Linked DNA regions of Homo sapiens: region 1 is linked to region 2. Evidence: fine-mapped expression QTL. Tissue or cell type: whole blood. Region 2 holds a variant in brackets; the other region holds the start of a gene. All regions are shown on one strand. Distances are between the middles of the regions. Region 1 holds the start of MTARC1 (mitochondrial amidoxime reducing component 1). Region 2 overlaps MTARC1 (mitochondrial amidoxime reducing component 1).

Region 1 (11,580 bases), 32 kb before region 2:
TTTATTGCAACTCAAATTCCTTTATTAGAATCAATATCAAGGAATATGAGAATAATTGAAACTGCATAATGAAATATTAGAAAAAAATGAATGTAATGAGTTGTCAGAGCTTTTTTACCAAGGAGCTTCTTTTATGCTAAGGATTTCTCTTTTGTTTTGTTATTTAAAGAAGTTTGGCTGACTTTAGTTCCCAACGAAGATAGTGATTTAGGCTTAACATTCTTTGGAGCTGTATTCTATTTTGTTTCTCTTTCCTCTGTTTTGTGGATTGTTTCCAATGGGTTTAGCTTAGAAAAGAGGTTATTTCATGATGACTTCAGATTTACAATTCTATTTTGTTTTTGATTTTTAAGATGTAGTGATAATTATTTAAGATGCTGTGAAAGTTATTGTTTTCTTTAGACAGGACACTGGAAAAAGATTAACATCTGCAGTAGTCCAGACCCATCTGCCAACTTCATGTCTGTCTGAATTTTTGTTCACCAGTGAACCCCAGCTTTGGGCTCATAAACCTGGAGGGGGTTGAAAGCATGGTGCTTAAATGCACTAAACAGAAGATTTGTAGAGTTCAGGGCCATTCCATTTTGAGTTTTAGGGGCATTTGTTTCAATGAGTTGTGAAGTTGAAGGTACCCATATAGACAAAGTATTTATTTTATACTTACACATAAGTTTTTTTCTTTTTGGACTTAAACTGAAGCCATGGAGAAATTGCGTAGACTTTCAGGATACTTCTAGAAAAACTAGAATTATTTGCAGTTTGACTAATTGTCCACAGACTTCTCTCGCAACATTTTAGAAAATTCTTGCTGTGTATTTATAAATAACTTGGAAGGCAAACTTGAGTTCTATTGAGAATACTTCGATTATTATTTCCTTTTTGTGTCTGATGATTGAATTTTTGCTTGTTTCAGCTACCGCCTGTGTGATCCTTCTGAGAGGGAATTGTACAAGTTGTCTCCACTTTTTGGGATCTATTATTCAGTGGAAAAAATTGGAAGCCTGAGAGTTGGTGACCCTGTGTATCGGATGGTGTAGTGATGAGTGATGGATCCACTAGGGTGATATGGTAAAGGGTCAGCTTTGCTTCTGAATACGCTGTCTTGAAGCCATTGCTGCATTTTCTTGTGTTAATTTTTTTTATGTTATGCTGCTTTAATTCTTGAGAGAATGAACAGTTTTATATTCTGATCTTTGGAGTTGGAAAATGCCCTTAATTTCTGTTCCCTGCAGTAATTTGTGTACTCCTACCTCAGCCTTCTCCACCCCTATTTCCCATTTAATGGTAAAATGCTGATGGAAGAGGCTCAGCAGAAAGACAGGTATATGTTCACAGCTCATTACAGAATATCATTAAGGAATAGGGAAATGAAGGTGATTGATTCTCAGAGTTATGTACATTCTCAGAGTTATGTATTTATTTTTTCTGTCTCAGATAGAAGGGAAAATGTTTAAATTATTCAACATCAGCTTGGGAAATGTTTAAATTGAATGTCTTTTATCAAATGTATTTTTAAAGTATAATTGAAGTTTGAAAAAAAATCAGTGCATCATGGTGACTGGGTCCTGAATCATGAGTTAGAAAATAATGTTCTCACATTGATTTCATTGTGTCCAATACAGCCCTCACTCCTGGAGGCAAAAGCCTAACTCCCAAATTAAAGGAATGAGAAAGTTGGACAGAGGACCTCAAATTGGAGATTTTAAGCAAGTTTTCTCATAAAATCCATGACCCAGTTCTTTAAGTTACCTCATCTCCAAAACTCTTGACCATCCTTCTCTCTGATTCTGGCCTGAGCTTCTCACGTGTGTTACTTGCCTTTGTAGTCTTGACACCCACAACCTGACCCTCCTTAAGGACAGTGTAACACAGTGGCTTAGAAGGTGTAGATCTAGCATTAGATAGACTTGGGTTTGTAATCCAAGCATCTTCCTAACTTGGTTGAGATGTTTAACTTCTCTTTAAGTCTCAGTACCCTTATCTGCAAAGTGGGAATAATAGTACTTACCAAAACAAGCAATAAAAGTTATCTTGAGTATTAATTCATATAAAGTTGCGCTGCAACACAAATAAAGTGCTCAGTAAATATCAGTTATGTTTTTTATTGCCATCATTCCATCATGATCCAGTCTTAGGTTCCATAGTGGGTATAAAGATGACACAGGCTTTGCCTTTGAGGTGGGCAAAAAGGAGCTACACTTCTATTGATGACTGTTATGACTAGGTATTTGCATAACCATAACCATATTTCATAACATATTTCATCCGTTCTGAGATCCTATTCTAACATCTCTGATATCAGTCAGCTTCTTATAACATTCAGGATGCCTTTTGAAAAATATCAGTGATGCATAAAATTATCAGTGATGCATATAATAATGGTGCATCTTACAATTGGTATATCTTGGATTTGATGAAATACAATAAGTATTAATACTAGAGGGGAAACTGTGAAGCTCCTAAGTACCTGGCATTTCTAAAAGCCCCATTTGGGGAGAGTGGACCCAAGCCTGAGCCATCTAGCTTGAGTGAAACTGATCCTGTGTCCTGCTGTTCCAGTCATGATTGACTGGACCTGGATCATTGTGTGAGCCAAGGGCTTTCATGTGTTCTCTGCATCTGAGGGAGCCCAATGGCTGTGAGATACCATAACGATTGAGGGTTTTCCATATCACTCCGTCACAAACTCATCCAATCAGATCCTGTTTTGCAGTGGATGGAGGCAACAAACATCTGTGGTTCACTCAGCCTCAATTTCCAATTGTCTCTGCTGCCCAGAAGGCCTTGTGTAATCTTTATCTGTGAGAGGATCTCTGTGAGATAGATATGATAACAGGCACTTTATGGATGAGAAACAAAGGCTTAGATAGGTCAGCTGACGTAGGGCCTGGGAGCTGATGTGAGTTAGAGCTAATGGGCCATGCTTTCTGCACAGCACTGCACCATACATTTATATGTGTAACCTCAATAAGTGACTGTTTTGTGGGAGTTTGAATTATTTATGAACAGTAGGATAAACAACCAAATAACCAGAGATTCTTATTATTTATTCAGGCTTCAGCAACCAGGAGGGATTGACTGAGATCTTAACAACAGCAGCAACGATACATCAGCAAATCCTTATTATCCAGCCTTCAACTATCTTTACCCTGGAAAACAATCTCGATTTTTGACTTTTCAAAGTTGTGTATGCTCCAGGTTAATGCAAGGAAAGTATTAGAGGGGGGAATATGAAAGTATATATATAAATTTTAGGTACTGAAGGCTTTAAAAATAATTAAGATCATCAAAAATGCTATTTTGAATGTTATCATGGCTATTACACTTTTACTTCCTGACTTTAATATTGATGAATAAAGCAAGTTTAATGAATCAACTAAAAAGCTGCAAAAATGTTTTTAAAATGTGTGCCTTTTATTACCTATCAGTCTATGTTTTGGGAGAAATGGGAAGCAACAGATCACTGTGTCCTGATGTGCAGGACGCATGTTACCACACTCACAAATGCCTAATATTGGTCTTTATGTGGCCATTGAGTCCTGTTGACTTTCCACTCATGTGCTTTTTACTCTAGCATTATGGAATCTGGGCTGTACTTGAGTATGGAAATTCTCTTATAGACTTAGTTTTAGTACTCTATTACACCTTTACTAAGCCACATAAAAGTAATCTGTTTGTGTGTAACTGCCAGATATACCACCTGGAATTCCAAGTAAGATAAGGAAGAGGATGACATTTAAAAGAGAATGGAATTTTGAGAGTAGGAATGCAAGGAAGACAGCATGAACATATTTTTTTCAGTGCAAATAATTTTTTCGTAACAAAGAAACGAACAACTTTGGTATGATCTTAAGCAAAAATACTCACTGAAATAGTATGTGGATGAATTCACCTACTTACAATTTTATGGTTTCTTTGTAAATAATAAATGTGAATCTCAATCCTGCTTTATCTTTGGTATTTATGAGTCTTCTTCCTGGGTTTTTCTCTTTATATTAGAATTTGAGTCACTGCAATTTATTTTTCCTTACCCTTTCTGATTGCCTCCAGAGATACAATCTGACTCCACAAACACTGGCTTCTGTCATTGGCAGGGGGCGAGGGCGTTGTGAGCTGCAGGCACACAGGTGGCCTGTCTGTGGCAGGATGGCCAGTGTCCGCAAGGGGCCTTCCTAGTGGTCAGTGAGGAGTGGCTGTTCCCTCCTCCTCCATTTTCCTTTGCTGGGTTCTGGGACTGAAATTCACCACCATTCCCCGCACCCTGTGAGGTAAAAGTGGTAAGTGAGCTGTAGGCCTGGGTAAATTCTGGAAGTGATGAAATTGAAAAATCAGAACTTCAAAGTCAGCCATTAAAATAGGGAAGCCATTTTTTCCTCTTAAATTTTCAAAGAGGAATTCAGGAGGGAGATAAACAGAAACGCACATTTGGTGCCCCGGAACTGCCTTTCCGAGGAGGATCAAGTCGTGCCTCCTGCTGAGCTGTGTCCTTTACAGACAAGGTGTGACCTGGGGTTGGAAGAGAAGAGAATAGAGCAGAAAAACAGGACAGATAAGTGTTCAGGCCAATAAAGACAGAGCCTCCCTGAGCACTGAACTGCTCTGCAGTGAGTTGCCAGCTGGAGGAAGAGTGTTGTTCTTTTCTCTTGGCGAACTCCCGCTTCTCATCCATGCACCCTTGCCCTGCATGGGCAATTCTGGCTGAGTCTTGCAATGTACACTCCTGGCTCAGGGGACCATGGCTGAGCTGGGGATAACACAGACTCTCCTTGACCAAACTTCGGACTCTCCTGTGCCCTTTTCTTCATGAGGCCTTGACCTTGCCACCCTACTCCCTGCAGAGCCCAGTTTAGCAAGAATCCTGCTTAGTCAGTTTCCAGAGTATTCTCCCATCCTTAATATCTGATCACCCTTGATGTCTGCTCAGATTCCTCATATGTCACCCTCAGTGTGTAAGTCCTTGCCTTGTTCAGTAGAATCCTGTTAAGTGGGTTTATCAAGAATCCTCTACACTTGATGTCTCCGCTTAGTGATTTTCCATTCACTGACCCCGAGGAACTTCGCTCCTTGGCTATGAATCCTGAGCTGTCTTTGCTGTAATACAGAGTTGAGCCTAATCTCTTTCCCCTATTGTGATGCCCCTGTTACAGTAGCCTTGAATAGTCTTCCTTACCTTTTTAACAAGCGTCTGAGGGAATTTTTTTCCTTTAATAGCTTGGTACATCAAGCAGGAGCCTGACTCCTAAACCACGCTGTTCGGGGTATGCTAACATTGTTGTCTGGAATATAACCTGATTTGGAAGTGACAAGTGACTGAGGTGAGTGCCTGCAGGACCAAGTGACTTTCCCTCCCGCCGGAAGCAGCCCGGGGACCTTGTGCAGCGTTAAACTGAGCCAAGGCCCTTGCCAATGCAGCTCCAGCTCGAGGCTCCCCGCCGGTAGGAGTCGAGCGTCCCCGAGCCGTGTAGAAGGCACTCTCAGACGCCCATTGCCGCTCCCAGGGGCCGCCGGGAGAACTCTGGCCTTGGCTCGCCGGCGCGGAGGGCCTGGTAGCATCCTCCTTCATCAGACCCCCACTCTCTGGAAGCTCCTAGCCCCTGGGCAGACTGAGGGGAGGGCGGCGGCAGCAGAGAGCTGGACACTGCACAGGCCAGGCAGGGCCTACCAGCTCTCCACTATTCCCAGGAGAGGCTGCTGCCAGCTGTCTGATTTCTAATTTCAAAATCACGCTTTGTCCTGCAAATGTTGTATATTGTTTATTTTAGGTCAAATAACCCCATAAATACGTAAGTAAATAAATTGGTCACTTGCAGCGATCGTGGGGTGGGGGAGGGCACAGCGCCCTGCAGCGCAGGCGACGGAAGGTTGCAGAGGCAGTGGGGCGCCGACCAAGTGGAAGCTGAGCCACCACCTCCCACTCCCCGCGCCGCCCCCCAGAAGGACGCACTGCTCTGATTGGCCCGGAAGGGTTCAGGAGCTGCCCAGCCTTTGGGCTCGGGGCCAAAGGCCGCACCTTCCCCCAGCGGCCCCGGGCGACCAGCGCGCTCCGGCCTTGCCGCCGCCACCTCGCGGAGAAGCCAGCCATGGGCGCCGCCGGCTCCTCCGCGCTGGCGCGCTTTGTCCTCCTCGCGCAATCCCGGCCCGGGTGGCTCGGGGTTGCCGCGCTGGGCCTGACCGCGGTGGCGCTGGGGGCTGTCGCCTGGCGCCGCGCATGGCCCACGCGGCGCCGGCGGCTGCTGCAGCAGGTGGGCACAGTGGCGCAGCTCTGGATCTACCCTGTGAAATCCTGCAAGGGGGTGCCGGTGAGCGAGGCGGAGTGCACGGCCATGGGGCTGCGCAGCGGCAACCTGCGGGACAGGTACGGCCAAGCGCCGGCGCGGGGCAGCGCTGATCCGGCTCGGGGCAAGGGGGTGAGAAGGGAGGAGCGCAGGGGAGGTCTGCAGAGTCTGCTAACAGGTCCTTCCTCCTATTACAAAGAAACTGGGAGTTGGGTGAGACAAGGCCAAAGAGAAAAAGGAACCCTCACCCCCCAGCATCAGACCCCAGGGCTCTGGGACTCTGAGCGCGTGGACCCGTTTTCCCGGGGTGGGCGGATCTCCACCTCCCACTGGCTCTTTGGCGTCATGTGCTCCTGCTGAGGTGTGGTATCGCTCCCAGGTGTCTGCCAGTGAGCAAACTTCTTAATCTCCATTTAGTGGAGGCGGCTAGCTTGAAGAGGTTGGTTCCCAGTCGCTATTTTGAGTGACTTTCTTGAGATCTTGGAGAAAGCTGAACTGTAGAGTCCAGCCCTCCAAGAGCGCACCAAGGCGGAGCTCATAATAGTAATGACAGCAGTTCAACGAATACCTTCGGGCGCGGTGGCTCACGCTTGTAATCCCAGCACTTTGGGAGGCCGAGGCGGGTGCATTACCTGAGGTCAGGAGTTCGAGACCAGCCTGACCAACATGGTGAAACCGCGTCTCTACTAAAAACAAACAAACAAACAAAAAAACAAAAATTAGCCGGGCGTAGTGGCGCGCACCTGTAATCCCAGCTACTCAGGAGGCTGAGGCAGGAGAATAGCTTGAACCCGGGAGGTGGAAGTTGCAGTGAGCCAGGATTGCGCCACTGCACTCCAGCCTGGGCAACAGAGCGAGACTCCGAATCAAAAAAAGAAAGAAAGAAAGAAAGAGTTGTGGGGGCATTGCAGATGCTATTTTCCCCAATTCTCTCCAATGCTCTCAAGCACTCTTGTGGATAAAGAAGTTGAATTCAGAGCCACACAGCAGCAGAACCAGGACTCTTATTTTCTTTAGCACACTGGGGCTTTGTAAAGAGTGACTTTGTTAATGTCCTGTCTGGGTTCTGAGAGCTGCGTGGATTCCTGGGGTTCAGCGAAGGCTGCAAAACCCGGGAGCCGGCAGCTTTGTCCTCTTTAGGGTCTGGCTTCAGGCCAGCCTCGGGTCTTATTGTGAGGCTGCACTTGAAACTCCTTTCCAGAGCAGCCCTCGCAGTTCAGCAAGTAACACAGGACTAATGGGAGCTGTAACCTTTCTCCTACCAGCTCCCCAGACAGAGGGCAATTCATGACATAGTTGAAAGGTGAGTGACGTATGCATCTTTGCTTCAGGAAGGAAGCCAAGAATCCTAAATATTCCATGTTTTGGGCCAGGCGCGGTGGCTCACTTCTGTAATCCCAGCACTTTGGGAGGCCGAGGCGGGTGGATCACAAGGTCAGGAGATTGAGACCATCCTGGCTAACAGGGTGAAACCCCTTCTCTACTAAAAAATACAAAAAATTAGCCGGGCTTGGTGGTGGGCGCCTGTAGTCCCAGCTACTCGGGAGACTGAGGCAGGAGAATGGCGTGAACCCGGGAGGCGGAGCTTGCAGAGCTCCACTGTGGCAGAGATCTCGCCACTGCACTCCAGTCTGAGCGACAGAGTGAGACTAAGTCTCAAAAAAAAAAAAAATCCATGTTTCGTATAGTAGGCTCTGAAAAGTGGTAGAGTTTTTGTAGGCCCCAGAGGCAAAGGGCACTGGAATTTTACTACTTAGATTCAAAAAGCAGTTTTTGAGCTCATATTACAATAGATGACAAGAAGAGCTGGCCTTTGTACCAGACACTATGATAAATTCTTTATTTTCGTTCATCACACACTCCCAGAAAGTGTGATCAAAAGAAGCCAACACTGGCTTACAGTCCTAGGTTGTGACTAGACTAAACAGAGGTTGTGACACGTGCCAGGGTGCCAGCATAGAGGATGCGACACGTGCCAGGGTGCCAGCATAGAGGATGCAGTGCTGGAAGCTGGCTGGGGCCGTCAGGGACAACATCAGAGAGAAAGTAACAGCTTGAGCTGAAAACTGGAAAACGATTCAGAACTTGCTGGGCAAGTAAATTGGGAGAAGAACTTTCTAGAGAGGGAATAAGCTGGGCAAAGACACTCGGCTTGTGAGGATGGGGTATGCTAGGGGAAAGGCTGGCATAGTCAATGCCAGAGGGGTCCAATCTTTTGGCTTCCCTGGGCCACATTGGAAGAAGAATTGTCTTGGGCCACACATAAAATACACTAACACTAACAACAGCTGATGAGCAAAAACAAAAACAAAAACAAAAAAAATCTCATAATGTTTTAAGAAAGTTTATGAATTTGTGTTGGGCCTCATTCAAAGCTGTCCTGGGCCACGGGTTGGACAAGCTTACTCTAAGGTATTTACCAAAAGGAACTGGGACATAAATAGGATGAATGTTCTTTGCAGCATTGAGTGTTGAATGTTCATTATGATGTTATTCACAGTAGCCAAAAGGTGGAAACAACTAAGTGTCCATTGATGGATGAGTAGATAAGCAAAATGTGGTATATACACACAATGGAATATTATTCAGCCATGAAAAGGAATGAAGTTCTGATATGTGCTACAACATGGATGGCCCTGGAAAACATAATACTAATTGAAATAAGCTAGACACAAAAGGACAAATATTGCATAATTCCAATTATATGAAATGTCTAGTGGATAAATTTATAGAGACAAAGTGGATTAGATGTTACTGGGGGCTGGGGGAAGGGGAAAACGAGGAGTTATTGCTTAATTGGTACAGAGTTTCTGTTTGGGGTGATGAAAAGGTTTTGCAAATAGTGGTGATGGTTGCACAACACTGTGAATGTACTTTACTGCCACTGAATTGCACACTTCAAAATGGTTAAAATCACATTTAAAAAATTCCATTCTCTGTTGATGGACACTCGGGCTGTTACTACTTTTTCAGCATTTTGATTAAAGCTGCAATAAACATTGATACACAAATGTCTGTTTGAGTTCCTGTTTTCAGTTCTTTGGGGTCTATACGTAGGAGTGTGCTAGGTATTTTATGTTTTATATATATTTTACTGCAATTAAAAAATAAATATATAAAAGACTGGCCTGTGTGAAGACCTCGGGAGGTAAGAATGGCTGGAGCAACAGCTGGATCATGAAGGGCTGGGCACGCCCTTGTTTAGGAGTTGGTTTTATCCTGAAAGCAGGAACCATGGAGGGATTTTGAATGAGGGGGTCATAAAGTTAGATTTGCATTTTAGAGCGATGTAAACTGCCATTACCAGGAAGAATATTAGACAGAATATTCACCTGCTAGTCCCAAGGATTTGGGTCAGGGCAGGCCTCTGTCTGTGCAGAAACAAAGTCTGGTAAAAGGGCAGTTACGGAAAGGGCTTATACTAAGCATATTTTTCTAGTGTAGCTGAACAACTCAACCATGATAACCTGCTGGAAGTGATGCAAGAAATATCTTGAACGACCTAAAGTACCGGCCATATTTTTTTCTTATGTCTGGAAATCTCAAAAGCACATGCTCACTTCTATAATTGTAATCATTTGATCAGTGTGTACTGTAAGGATTGAAATGCCAATATGTTTTGCTTCCTTGGTAGCTGAGAGATAACCTGCAAAAACATGTTGTTCTTGTTCTGGAAATGGCTCTTTCTATTACCTTTATTTCTCCATTTATCTTTTTTTCTAGGAAGTACCTGTAGACCAGGAATACTGGGCCAGAAGAAAAAAATACTGTCTAGTTTAGCAAATTGCAGAATGGACAGCACTGAATGTTGGAACATAAAATTTTTAAAAGGTGGGGGGCTGGAACTGGCAGAGTATAAGTGGCACTGTGTGTTGCTCAGCTGAACTCCATGCCCTGTGAACAATATAAGCAACAGTCCTGCTATTTCCACTGACAAGAGCCCGTTGCCTACCAGATGCCAGGCCCTGTGCTTCCTCCTGCCTTTGAGGTCTTCATGTAAAATAGATTCTTGTCATCTGCTTGGGGCATGTTTAATGAAAGTGATCAGGCTTTCTAGAGATTGAGATGAAAATATAATTAACATCTTTGATTTCTGTGCCATCAAAGAGCTCAAACTGTTCTCCAGATATATGTTGGATGCTTGAGTGGTTATGAAATCCTTTGAAATTAAGTGACAGACTCAGTCCTGTGTGCTGATGTTTAGGACAGACAGACACACACACTCAAACTCACACACACCAGGCTTATGGGGAAGAAATCAAAGATGACAACAGTGTCTAATTGAAGCTCCTCCAGGGTCTGGCTTCCTGCCATAATGGTTCACACATATCCTGTGTTTTGAAAACGGCAGGTTTTGGCTTGTGATCAACCAGGAGGGAAACATGGTTACTGCTCGCCAGGAACCTCGCCTGGTCCTGATTTCCCTGACCTGCGATGGTGACACCCTGACTCTCAGTGCAGCCTACACAAAGGACCTACTACTGCCTATCAAAACGCCCACCACAAATGCAGTGCACAAGTGCAGGTAAGGAAAGGGCAGGTCGTAGCCCTTGTGTGAATGAATAGTCATGCAATTTTGAGAAAGCATAAACTCTAGAGGGAATGCTGAGAAACATATCAATAATGAACCGTTGATTGCATGTGTACCATATACAGAATGAAGTCCTCAACATTATGAAGATCTAAAAGAAGGAGAAAGAAGGAAGCAGCTTCAGAAACTTGTGTTGTGGAGATGACAGACATGAAAGTGCTATGTAGAAACCCATGAGAACAAAAGCATATTGACATGTCAGCAAGAGAAAAATAACAGCACCCAAAGATCAAGCACAAAAATGGGGTGGGAGTGGTGGGGGCGAGTGTCCTAGCAGAGGTGAAACTCGATCTACGTATTCTCATAGAACTTTTTCTTCTTGGCTTAGAAAAACTGGGCACCTTCCAAGTCTGAGTTAGGAAAGGAGTTGCAAATGGCTATGTGACCCGTAAGATTTAGTTCTAATGAAAGGAAGTTCCAAAATAGAAAAGAACAACTCTAGCTAGAAGAGTGATCCAGCCAGCGGCTGCCCAGGGGTCAGTGTCAGAATGAGGCTGGGGATGTAACCCAGGAGGATGTTCTGTACACAAGCCCTTCCCTCAACATCAGAAGGGCTGCAATGAAGCAATTCTTCTAGGAAAACTAGTTTTGCCTCCAAGAAGTCATGTCTAGAGTTGATTTCTTATCTGATTATGGGAAAATTAGAGTTGGTCCAGTTATATTCTTGTTATAGTTTCTGCATTTGGAATAAAGATGCAGTGTGAATGTAGTTTA
Region 2 (11,580 bases):
AAGCAAGCCAAGTCAAATGATGTTGTACAGGAAGAACCTTGGAACTCGGCAGCTGCGGACAGGCTGTGGGAAGAGAGGACAGTGGTGTAAAGGATGGGCTCCCAGCCCAAGTGACGGCTAGGATGGTGGTTCAGGTGACAGACATGGAGGAGACAGGAGGAAAGATGCCTAGGGCAAAGGAAGATGATAAAGTATGTCTAGACACATTGAGTATCTAATTTTTTTTTTTTTTGAGACGGAGTCTTGCTCCATTGCCCAGGCTGGAGCGCAGTGGCACAATCTCCGCTCACTGCAAGCTCCGCCTCCCAAGTTGATGCCATTCTCCCACCTCAGCCTCCCGAGTAGCTGGGACTACAGGCACCTGCCACCACTCCTGGCTAATTTTTTGTATTTTTAGTAGAGATGAGGTTTCACCGTGTTAGTCAGGATGGTCTTGATCTCCATCCTGGTTGTGATCTGCCAGCCTCGGCCTCCCAAAGTGCTGGGATTACAGGCATGAGCCACCACACCTGGCCAAGTATCTAACGTCTTAATGCCGAAAGGGGGAACATGAAGGTAGAGAAAAGATGTGGGGATGTGGCCATTGCTTATGCTTCTGTCGTTGTTTGCTGGGCAGGCTGTTCACTGCCCCACTCCAGGAGGCGCTGTTCTGTTGAGCTTTGACGGGATGGTGCCCTCTCGAGCTGTGCGTGCGGAGGCCCTGTGTGGGATGGAAGCCACGTGCTGGTTGAGCTCTTGCATCCGCTTGGCTGTGACTCATCATGATCTTTTCCTATTGCAGTTATCGCCAGTGTGACCCTTCAGAACGAAAGTTATATGGAAAATCACCACTCTTTGGGCAGTATTTTGTGCTGGAAAACCCAGGGACCATCAAAGTGGGAGACCCTGTGTACCTGCTGGGCCAGTAATGGGAACCGTATGTCCTGGAATATTAGATGCCTTTTAAAAATGTTCTCAAAAATGACAACACTTGAAGCATGGTGTTTCAGAACTGAGACCTCTACATTTTCTTTAAATTTGTGATTTTCACATTTTTCGTCTTTTGGACTTCTGGTGTCTCAATGCTTCAATGTCCCAGTGCAAAAAGTAAAGAAATATAGTCTCAATAACTTAGTAGGACTTCAGTAAGTCACTTAAATGACAAGACAGGATTCTGAAAACTCCCCGTTTAACTGATTATGGAATAGTTCTTTCTCCTGCTTCTCCGTTTATCTACCAAGAGCGCAGACTTGCATCCTGTCACTACCACTCGTTAGAGAAAGAGAAGAAGAGAAAGAGGAAGAGTGGGTGGGCTGGAAGAATATCCTAGAATGTGTTATTGCCCCTGTTCATGAGGTACGCAATGAAAATTAAATTGCACCCCAAATATGGCTGGAATGCCACTTCCCTTTTCTTCTCAAGCCCCGGGCTAGCTTTTGAAATGGCATAAAGACTGAGGTGACCTTCAGGAAGCACTGCAGATATTAATTTTCCATAGATCTGGATCTGGCCCTGCTGCTTCTCAGACAGCATTGGATTTCCTAAAGGTGCTCAGGAGGATGGTTGTGTAGTCATGGAGGACCCCTGGATCCTTGCCATTCCCCTCAGCTAATGACGGAGTGCTCCTTCTCCAGTTCCGGGTGAAAAAGTTCTGAATTCTGTGGAGGAGAAGAAAAGTGATTCAGTGATTTCAGATAGACTACTGAAAACCTTTAAAGGGGGAAAAGGAAAGCATATGTCAGTTGTTTAAAACCCAATATCTATTTTTTAACTGATTGTATAACTCTAAGATCTGATGAAGTATATTTTTTATTGCCATTTTGTCCTTTGATTATATTGGGAAGTTGACTAAACTTGAAAAATGTTTTTAAAACTGTGAATAAATGGAAGCTACTTTGACTAGTTTCAGATCTTACTAACTTCTTGGCACAAAGTTAGACTGTGAAAGCTGACTGAGGCTGGGCACAGGGGCTCATGCCTGTAATTCCAGCACTTTGGGAGGCCAAGGTGGGAGAATGGCTTGAGCCCAGGAGTTTGAGACCAGCCCAGAAAATATAATGGGATCCTGTCGCTACAAAATGTTTTTAAAATGCACTCGGTGTGGTGGTGTGTGCCTGCAGTCCTGGCTATGGCTACTCGGGAGGATGAGGTAGAAGGATTGGTTGAGCCCAGGAGCGGGAGATTGAGGCTGCAGTGAGTTATGATTGCACCACTACACTCCAGCCTGAGTGATAGAGTGAGACCCTATCTCTAAAAAAGAAACAGGAAAAAAAAAGAAAGCTGACTGAGGTGAATGGGCAAAGCCAGTAATTCTGACACCTGACCACAGCTGGGTCTTCTGCATAATGGACCTCCTCACCCACAGCCTCCCAGGCAAGCACCCATGTTTGAAGGACTATCAAGTCAACATGCTTTTTACCAAAAGCTGCACATTTTTCACTTTGATTTTATAAAAGAGGTCAGTAATCGCTGAAATCTAGCTGAGCCCTGAAGTAAAGTTCTGAGCAAAGAGGTGCATGTGCTTGTTTTATGGTTGGTGAATTATTACAGTTTGTTTTCTGCATGCTTGGCATGAGGTGAATAATTACATCAATTTTCCAGAGAACCTGGGCCATCACCTTCCCCAACAAGTCCAGTTGATGTTGAAACTACAGATAGATTGAGACAAAGCGAAGTGTTCAGCAAGTAGCATTACTAATGGGACCGGGGGACCCGTGGGAGAGTGAGTGTACACAGGATTTAGGAAACCATGTGAATATGGGCTCTCTGGGAATAGCCAATAGGTAGGGAGCAATCAGAAACCCAAGGTTTGGTGGCTCTTCCTAGGTATTTATAATTAGTGGCAAGTGAAAGCCTTAGTCCTGAATTTCTAACCACTTGTAAGAACTAACAGCCACTTCTCTGTGCCCCGTCCGGGCAGTAACCATCATTCTCCATGGACAGGCTCTCGGGGTAGCTAGCTCTGCAGGGCAGCACCCACGTGGAAGGGAGCACCCAGAAACCCTCCTCACTGGGCAGACCTGTCCTTCTGTGCCTCACAGTGTGAGGAAGATTCCTGTTTGAAGAGAGAAGTTCCAGTGACCTCTAGAATCTCAGAGTAGTTGCCAAGCTTTCTGTCAGTGAGATTTAAAGGCCATTTACTTGTGTTTATTTTATATTTAATGAGTTGGTTAATGCCAGAGACAAAGCTGATATCCCATTTATTTTGGATACTGAGCATTTGCACACTATTCCACTTGAAATATAGAATCAGGAATGTAGGCCATCCCAGACTTTCAGATCTTACAACAGCAAATGACAGATGTTTGAGATCAGGCCAAAATATCCACCCTCGGTGGGCATCTCCTCTGTGTGGCAACTTATGCTGCAGCCACAGTGGGGAGTCACAAACTCAGAGCTGGAGGTCTTGAAAAGGACAATGTGGGCCAGGCTCCGGAGGGGCTGCCTAAAGGCTTGCTTTTGTGACTCTCCTGCAGAAAATGTTAGAAACTTCCAACCGAAAGACGAGGGCAGCAACTTATACACACGAAGGCAGAAAGAAATTGGGGAAGGGGAGGCTGTTGGAATTCAGGCCGTTGTCCTATAGGGAGAAATACTCCTCCTCTCCTTCTCCCTTTACTGATAACGGGGCATGGTGAGGAGATGAGCTTGTGAGGGTCTGCCAGTTTGGTAAGAGTGCATGGGGAGGTTGGGTAAATTAGACTAGCCAAATGGGACTTCGGGAAACCATTTATGAGGCTGTCACCAACAGTGATGGCAGGCTGAAATTCCAGGCAAGTGCTCCCAGCATTCCAAGAGTGTATCAAATTAAAGCAACCCATGATGGTGGAGAACAGATACATTAAAGTTCCTTGAAAATGACAGAGTGGCTCTCAGACCAGACCTTGATTGTGGGTATAATCGGAGTGTTGCTACCACACCCTAACACTGCATTTCCCGTGTTTTATTGGTCCATGGAATTCTGAAAGTTTGCCTTTCGGGATGCTTCTAAAAACAATTCCATGGACCAGTAAGTTTGGAAAGTCCTGCGTGCCTCACTTCTCTTCAAAGGCAAAAGGCTCTGGAGAGGCCTTCATGAAGACATCTGTGTTTAATGCTGCCCTTCCCAAAGGTCTGTTTTTGACTGTCTTTTGAGAAATGATCCTCTGATCTCTAGGCAGAATGCCAGTGAGCCAAGGAATCCCAGTTAGCAGGAGGGGTGCACTCATGGGAAGACTGAAGAAGTTAAAAGTTCCCGCCAAGTGAAGGAGACCTATCTTGGGACACTTCCCCTTGTCCTCTCCCTTGCCCCTCTTGCTGGAGTAAAAGGATGGAACTGGGACTTGATAGGTTAAAGGAGGTGTGGAGAAGTGTCTTAGACCAGCTCTCCTGTTGTGGGCCTTAGGGAGAAGCACTCTCTTTCTTCGGGATCATTTTCCAAACATGCATTTTTGGATGGATAGGGTGGATCAGGGTGAGGGAAGGGAAACCAAACTCTCTCTAACCTTGCCCTTACAGCAATACCTGTGATGTAAGTTACAAAACCACCTGTGATGAAAGTGCTCCAGGATGCTTCATGCACCAGGGAGGGGTGCCCTGTTTCTCTTCTGCTAGCTTCTCCTTTCTTTTTTTTTTTTCTTCTTTTTTTTGAGACAGTGTCTCACTCTGTTGCCAGGCTGGAGTGCAGTGGTGAGATCTCAGCTCACTGCAGCCTCTGCCTCCCAGGTTCAAGCAATTCTTCTGCCTCAGCCTCCCGAGTAGCTGGTGTGTCTGGAGTTGGTTCCTTCTGGTGGGTTCTTGGTCTCGCTGACTTCAAGAATGAAGCCACAGACCTTCGCAGTGAGTGTTACAGCTCTTAAAGGTGGCACGGACCCAAAGTGAGCAGTAGCAAGATTTATTGTGGAGAGCGAAAGAACAAAGCTTCGGAAGGGGACCCAAATGGGCTGCTGCTGCTGGCTGGGGTGGCCACCTTTTATTCCCTTATTTGTCCCTGCCCATGTCCTGCTGATTGCTCCATTTTACAGAGTGCTGATTGGTCCATTTTACAGAGTGCTGATTGGTGCATTTACAATCCTTTAGCTAGACACAGAGTGCCGATTGGTGAGTTTTTACAGTGCTGATTGGTGCATTTACAATCCTTTAGCTAGACACAGAACACTGACTGGTGCATTTATAATCCTCTAGCTAGAAAGAAAAGTTCTCCAAGTCCCCACTAGACCCAGGAAGTCCAGCTGGCTTCACCTCTCACTGGGACTACAGGTGCACACCACCACACCCAGCTAATTTTTGTATTTTTAGTAGAGACGGGGTTTCACCATGTTGTTCAGGATGGTCTCGAACTCTTGATCTCGTGATCTGCC[C/T]GCCTCGGCCTCCCAAAGTGCTGGGATTACAGTTGTGAGCCACCACGCCCGGCCCTAGCTTTTCCTTTCTGTTGCAAGTCCTCTCAACTAGTGTTGCCTTCCACCCTACAAAGCAGAATTACCTCAGAAGTCCTATGGCCCTGACTCTATCTATGTCTGCACAAAGCACTACTGTGCTTTGCTGTCTGCAAGAACAGAGATTGTTTGCTTCAACCACTTTCTCTGAATGGATGAATGAGTTATGATGATATCTAAAGTTACCCAATTTCAAGCAAGAGGAAGAATCTGGCTCGGTACCACAGATGTTCTTGGAATTGGGATAGTAAAAAAGTCCCTGAGGCATCCCTTGGTCTGCTCTGACCACACTCTCTTCACAGGAAGAGGCTTGGGCCACAGCTCTGACTATAACTCTGCTCTTCCTCCAAACACAGCTGAGGAATTGGGTGGTGGGGCACCTGCTCCCATGCTCTGTGGCCTGGCTCAGAGAGAAGAGTTGCCTTAATTACATTATTATTCTTCCTGGACAGGCTGTAGGTTGTGTAAAGTAACAAAAAGGACTGAGAAGTGACTTCCCATTCAGCCTCTTCCAAGGCCATTTTTGATAGGCAGGTCAAATTCACTCACATTTGGTTATTTGTTGGCCAGTCTAGTGCATTCACCCTTGCTGGTCCTCAGTCATGCTCCTTTACCTTTACAGAGCATCCTAGACTGCTCTTCCTCTTACCTTCCTTGTGAAACCCACAACCCCTAGTCCCTCCCCTTCCCTGGCATTTGTTATGCCCTCTACCAATCCCTGACCTGGTATTGGTCAGTCTCCAATCCTGGTGGATCCCTGTGGGAACTAAGTTAAGTCTAACTTTTGTCTCCCTCTTTAGAATTTACTGGGAGTACTGTAAATAAACTATTGTTGTTATAATTATTTCTGATTAACATTTTTACACCTAACAAAGTCTCAGAGAGATTGAATTTACTGGGTTGAAGGGAGGAGCACCTTCCACATGACCTGCCCAGCAATTAAAGCCGCTTGTTAGTCCGAGGCCCAGGACGGCCGAGGACAGCTGGAGAGCTCTTCGTTGCAGGCAGCTCTGGTTAACATCAACCGGGAAAGCTCTTTGTAAACACATGAATAATTGATCGTCCAGCGCTCACATAGCTACCGCGGATCTGAGCCCGTATGACTCATTTGCGAGCCATTCCTGTCGTCTGGATGCCATAACATTGGAGGAATGATGATCGTTTCTTGGAGGTTCTTCTGTGGCCAGAGTTGCCAAGACCAAGGCTGTAATGGTTTGTTATGATGACCTTTGTTATTCCATTAGGCTCAATTGCTTTAAAAAATGATGTGTGCATACTTTAGGAACGTTTTTACCCTTTATGTTGACCTGACATCATAGTTTATATTATAAAATGTATTAATGACAGAAGAGTGTTTTCATGTCCCAAGGACAAATTTTAACAACCATAATCTGCCCTCAGTCATCATAAATATAAATGTATTGGTCAAACAGATCTCGTTAATGTGGCCAAGATAAATGCAAGTCTATATTTTAAGGCAGTCGAAGTCCTAGAGAATATATCTGGAGCTTTTGTGGGGCTAAGAGATCTTGTATATATGCTATCAAAAGGCTGAGAAAATTAACATGTTCCCCCCTCTGATTTTGCATTGGACAGATATAAATGTCTTGGGGATGTCAAGTAAGATTGTTCACATAGTTTCTGGACACCATTAATGCCTGATGGGGTGAATCTTAGTTCTTAAAGCTATATTCTGCTCATTATGCTCACAGGGCTTTTGAAAAGAGAACAAAATAAAGATTTCAAGTCTTAGCAATGTGCTGCCCAGCCAACATTTTTCTGAGTTATACTGTGTCTTAAATTTCTAATTATATCATTCTCCCCATTCCCCAATAGCTTGTTTCCTGTGGGACGAGCCCCTTTTCCACAGATGTGGGTCTGACATTTGCATCATTCCAGTTGGCAAGCCACATGTTGGTAGACAGTGTTCTGGGCATGATCTGGAGGACAGGATGAGTGCTTTGTTTTCTCTTTGTTATGCCATACTCAGCAGCTTTGGTCATTATTTGTAGTGTCCACATTAAGCTTCTTAGGGAGAAAACAAATCCTTGTTGAAGAAACATTTTTTAATAGTGCTATTATTTTGAACCATGAAAATGCATTTAAAGCAGTAATGTCTCAAATGCTACTGTCAGAGCAGACTCTTTACAGGAATGAGTTCATTTCCCCCAGATATGGTAAAAAAAAAACAACAAAAAACAAACAAACAAACAAAAATGGTGCCATAATTAGCCTCTCCAAGGATTATGGTCACCTGGCAATGAATGAAGAGCACTTCATTTAAAACCATTTACCCTTTTTCCCTTTGAAGAATCTTCTAAAGCGATTTTCCCTTCTGAATCTGCTGTCGTTTTTGGCAACACCAAGTATTGGGCTTTAGGAATGAGTTTTGCCTGGATAAATTTTCTGGGACTGGGGACTGGATTATTTTCTAAATTTGTGCTGTGATCATCTCCTGTGTTGTTTGAACTTCTTGAGCAATTTAAAAAGTGAGGTACACGCACCCATTTTCATAGCAGCGTTATTTACAATAGTAAAAGAAAAAAAAATGGAAATAGCCCATGTCCACTGACAGATGAATGGATAAACAAAATGTAGCCTATACATACAATGGAATATTATTCAGCCTTGAAAAGGAAAGAAATTCTGACACATGCTATAACATGGATGAACCCTGAGGACATTATGCTAAGTGAAATAAGCCAGTCATATAAGGACAAATACTATATGATTCCATTAATATAAGGTACTTAGAGCAGTCACACTGTTCTAGACATAAAATAGAAACAGAAAGTAGAATGCTAGTTGCCAGTGGATGGGGGAATGGAGAATGAGGAGTAGTTGTTTCATGGGTATAGTGTTTCAGTTTTGCAAGATGAAAAGAATTCCAGAGATTGGTTGCAAAACAAAGTGAACGTGCTTAATACTCCTGAACTGTACACTTAAAAAAAAATGGTTATGGTGGCCAAGGCAAGAGGATCACTTGAGGCCAGGAGTTCAAGACCAGCCTGGGCAACATAGTGAGACCCTATGTCTACAAAAAATGAAAGTATTAGCCAGGCATGGTGGCGCATGCCTTTAGCCCTAGCTACTTGGAAGGTTGAGGTGGGTGGATAGCTTGAGCCAAGGAGTTCACAGTTACAGCGAGCTATGATCACACCACTGCACTCCAGCCTGGGTGGTAGAGTGAGGCCCTGTCTTTAAAAGAATAAAAAAGGAGGTTATGGTGGTACATTTTATGTTACATATATTTTACCACAATTAAAAAATAACTTAAAATGGTACAACACTTCAGAGACTTGGAGTTGCGTTAATCCCAACTCTAAAGTCCCTTCCTGGAAAGGCATCCTAGGCTACTGCTGCTGAAAGAACACCGATCCCACGCAGCCCATTCAGAACTCTTCTTGCTGACACCAAAAAGAATAAGAAATTGCAATGTAATGTTTTTGAACTTGAGAGTGAGATGATTTAACTTCAGATTTTAATTTCTCATTTTGCCTTTTTTGGCCCTTAACTTGGAATTTAATTTTGGACTTCAGACTCCTTGGTAATTTGGTGTTAGAGGGGTTTATGTTCAAATCTAGAGCATCTTATTGTCATTTTATTGTTGAGGTACCTTTGTGATATCACTTGATTTTGCTGCACAGTCTCTGATAGGTTCTGTTGGGCAGTGTGATGTCTGGACATAATTTGAGATGGAAAATAGAAAAGGATCGACAATTTTTATCTTGACTACAGAAAGGCCTTGAAGAACACAATGTACTGTACTGGCCCATCTCAGAACCTTATGGGGCAAAAACACACAGTACCTTTCTAGAAAGATCTACATGGAAGTGACACTGGAGATGGGGGTAGGAGTTTATTCCCTCTCTGAAGATGCTATCCCTATAATATATATACCTATATATGACTGGGTATAATGTGTAAGCACAATGGGCTCAAAGAACAAAAAATTGAGGAATTTGGGGATACAGATAACTTAGCTACAATAAATGTGTTATAATCACACTCATCCCTCGTATGTCCAAATGAAGAGACATTCCTTAGTCTTGGCCCCTCTCTGCCTCCTCACACTCTCTTGTTTGGGGGAGATCTGATTGGTAAATTTGGAAGCAGTGAGTTTGAGCTCTGCTCTTTCTCCTTCTCTTTTCTACTTGGGCTCTTGCTGCCTTCAAGGTGCTAGGACCCTGGTCCCTTTGGTCCAAGTGGTGATTTTGGCAGAAAAGACCCTTCCCTAGTTGGGAGATACCTGTAGTTCTCCAGTTTTGTGCAAGGCTGGGGAGATAAATTCAATATTGGGATTCAGTATTATTGATAAAACCTAGGCTGGAGGATGTAGTTTAGGAATACAAAAGCAATGGAATTTCTATCAGAAAAAAAGCAGATATTTTGATCTCAAAACAAAACAAAACAAAACTAAAACCTGCAAACAAAACCCAGTGTACCTTGCATTTGTAAAGTGCCATGAAACCTGCAGTGCACCTTCATCCACTCTATATGATTAGATCTTGCTGATGACCCAGTGAGGTAGGATAGATGTGAAAGTCTTTTGTAAGCTGCTTACGTATCATCATTCTTCTTCTGAATGCATAACGCATGTCACTGAGCTTTGGGGAGGTTAACTAACTTGTCCACATTATAGGTGATGGGCTAGAGTTAGAACTCAAGGCTTGTGCCTTCTGGCAATGCTACAAAATAAGTTGGCAAGAATGAATTCAAAGTGTGGTAGTACCTTCATCCGGAAACTGGTTTGATCCTACAATCTTGTTTTAAAACAATTGCTTATGACTTACTGAAAGGACCTTTAAGACTGGTGTGTGTATTTGTATCACCTGTGAACCATGGGTAGATTCCTGTGTCAGATTCTCAGATATCCTGATTTAGTAGTTCTGCAATGGAACCTAGAAATTCTCATTTTTATAAAGACTCCAAGCTCTTCAAAACTTTTACTTGATTTTCTGTAGACCAAGTTTCCATCACTCCTACTCACCCCACATTAATGTTGACATTCTTCTTAGTGGTATGTAAAGAAATACTGGAGGAACAAATTCTGGCTTTCTGAGAAAAATGGAACCCATTAGACTACTTCATGGTTAAGCATGGATGTGCTCATTTTGAGTGATGGGGTCACACTGATCCAAACACACCTCCCCCAGCCCTCAGGGGACCACAGCCCCACTTTTGGATGCAGCAGAGGATCGTGTATGCCCTGAAAGGGAGTGAAGCTCTGAAGGCACCAAACCCACAACCTGAGCCTCCACGCAACAAAGTCAATGACCACATCATTAACGAATCCTGAATTTGTCAGCCAAGCAGAGGCAATGCTTGGGGCTTAACGATTGTCCACATATCATGTAACAAATGACCGTGTGTGCATGCATGTGTGGGGGAGTAAATGAGAAAGCATGTTTTGTAAGAAAATTTAATTTCCTTATAACAACCAACCAGTTTCTTTTAGTGAATCAACAGATAAGGGGGTCCCAAATACAGCATTAACGATTTTAAAAGCATGAGTGCCAATGGTATTTTCTTTCTTTTTCTTTCTCTTTCTTTCTTTTTCTCTTTCTCTCTCTCTGTCTCTCTCTCTTTCTTCTTTCTTTCTCTCTTCCTCTCTTCCTTTCCTTTCTTTCTTTTTAAAGAAAGGCAAGGTAAAGATTGGGAATGTTGATGAACGATGGCCCCATTCTCTAAGAGCTCAGTGAGAGTCTGTGTCAACTTGTTTTCCTCTCTTCCTCCCTCCTAGCCAAGCTTCAGAGGAAACTCTTTTCATGTGAAATGTAAGGGATGAATTTCAAGCTCCACTGAGAGCTTTAAAACCTTAAATTCTTGAAATAACCTGCCTCTCAGGAATCATAGGTCCCAAAGAATTGTAAAGCTTTCCCTTAAGCTGTGGAATGGCTCCATTGCTAACTATGATTACTTAAGTCTCAGAATAGAAGGATGTAATAAATCTGACAGTATTTGTTCTGGTTTGTGACTAAGCAAAACTGTATAATATTAAATCAGATGTTGTTATAAACATATGAAATGGCACATTTTTTTCCAACTTGGGGCATTGTGGCATGAAGCATCCCCCCAAAAATGTTTTTGCATTCTTGGATACCAGCTCTGGTTTCTGCTAGATTTCCTTCTTTCTGAGCATGGATGCTAAATAACAGTGCTTCTTTTTAGCCATCTGTATTTCCTG

The links.
Region 1: it holds the start of MTARC1, and the variant in region 2 is fine-mapped to the expression of MTARC1 in whole blood (TOPMed, PIP above 0.99).

Annotation. Positions count from the first base shown.
Region 1 is chr1:220,780,865-220,792,444 of GRCh38, forward strand. MTARC1 (mitochondrial amidoxime reducing component 1) reads left to right here and starts at 6,049. Exons shown (of 7, transcript NM_022746.4): 1 at 6,049-6,355; 2 at 10,627-10,800. The coding sequence starts at 6,081. MTARC2 (mitochondrial amidoxime reducing component 2) reads left to right here. Exons shown (of 8, transcript NM_017898.5): 7 at 914-1,068; 8 at 3,055-3,951. The coding sequence ends at 1,037.
Region 2 is chr1:220,812,511-220,824,090 of GRCh38, forward strand. MTARC1 (mitochondrial amidoxime reducing component 1) reads left to right here. Exons shown (of 7, transcript NM_022746.4): 7 at 782-7,149. The coding sequence ends at 908. Among named protein-coding and RNA genes, the nearest start is that of LINC01352, 11 kb to the right of the region's middle. RefSeq lists enhancers at 207-1,406, 6,019-6,710. The variant C/T (reference allele first, on the strand shown) is at 5,319.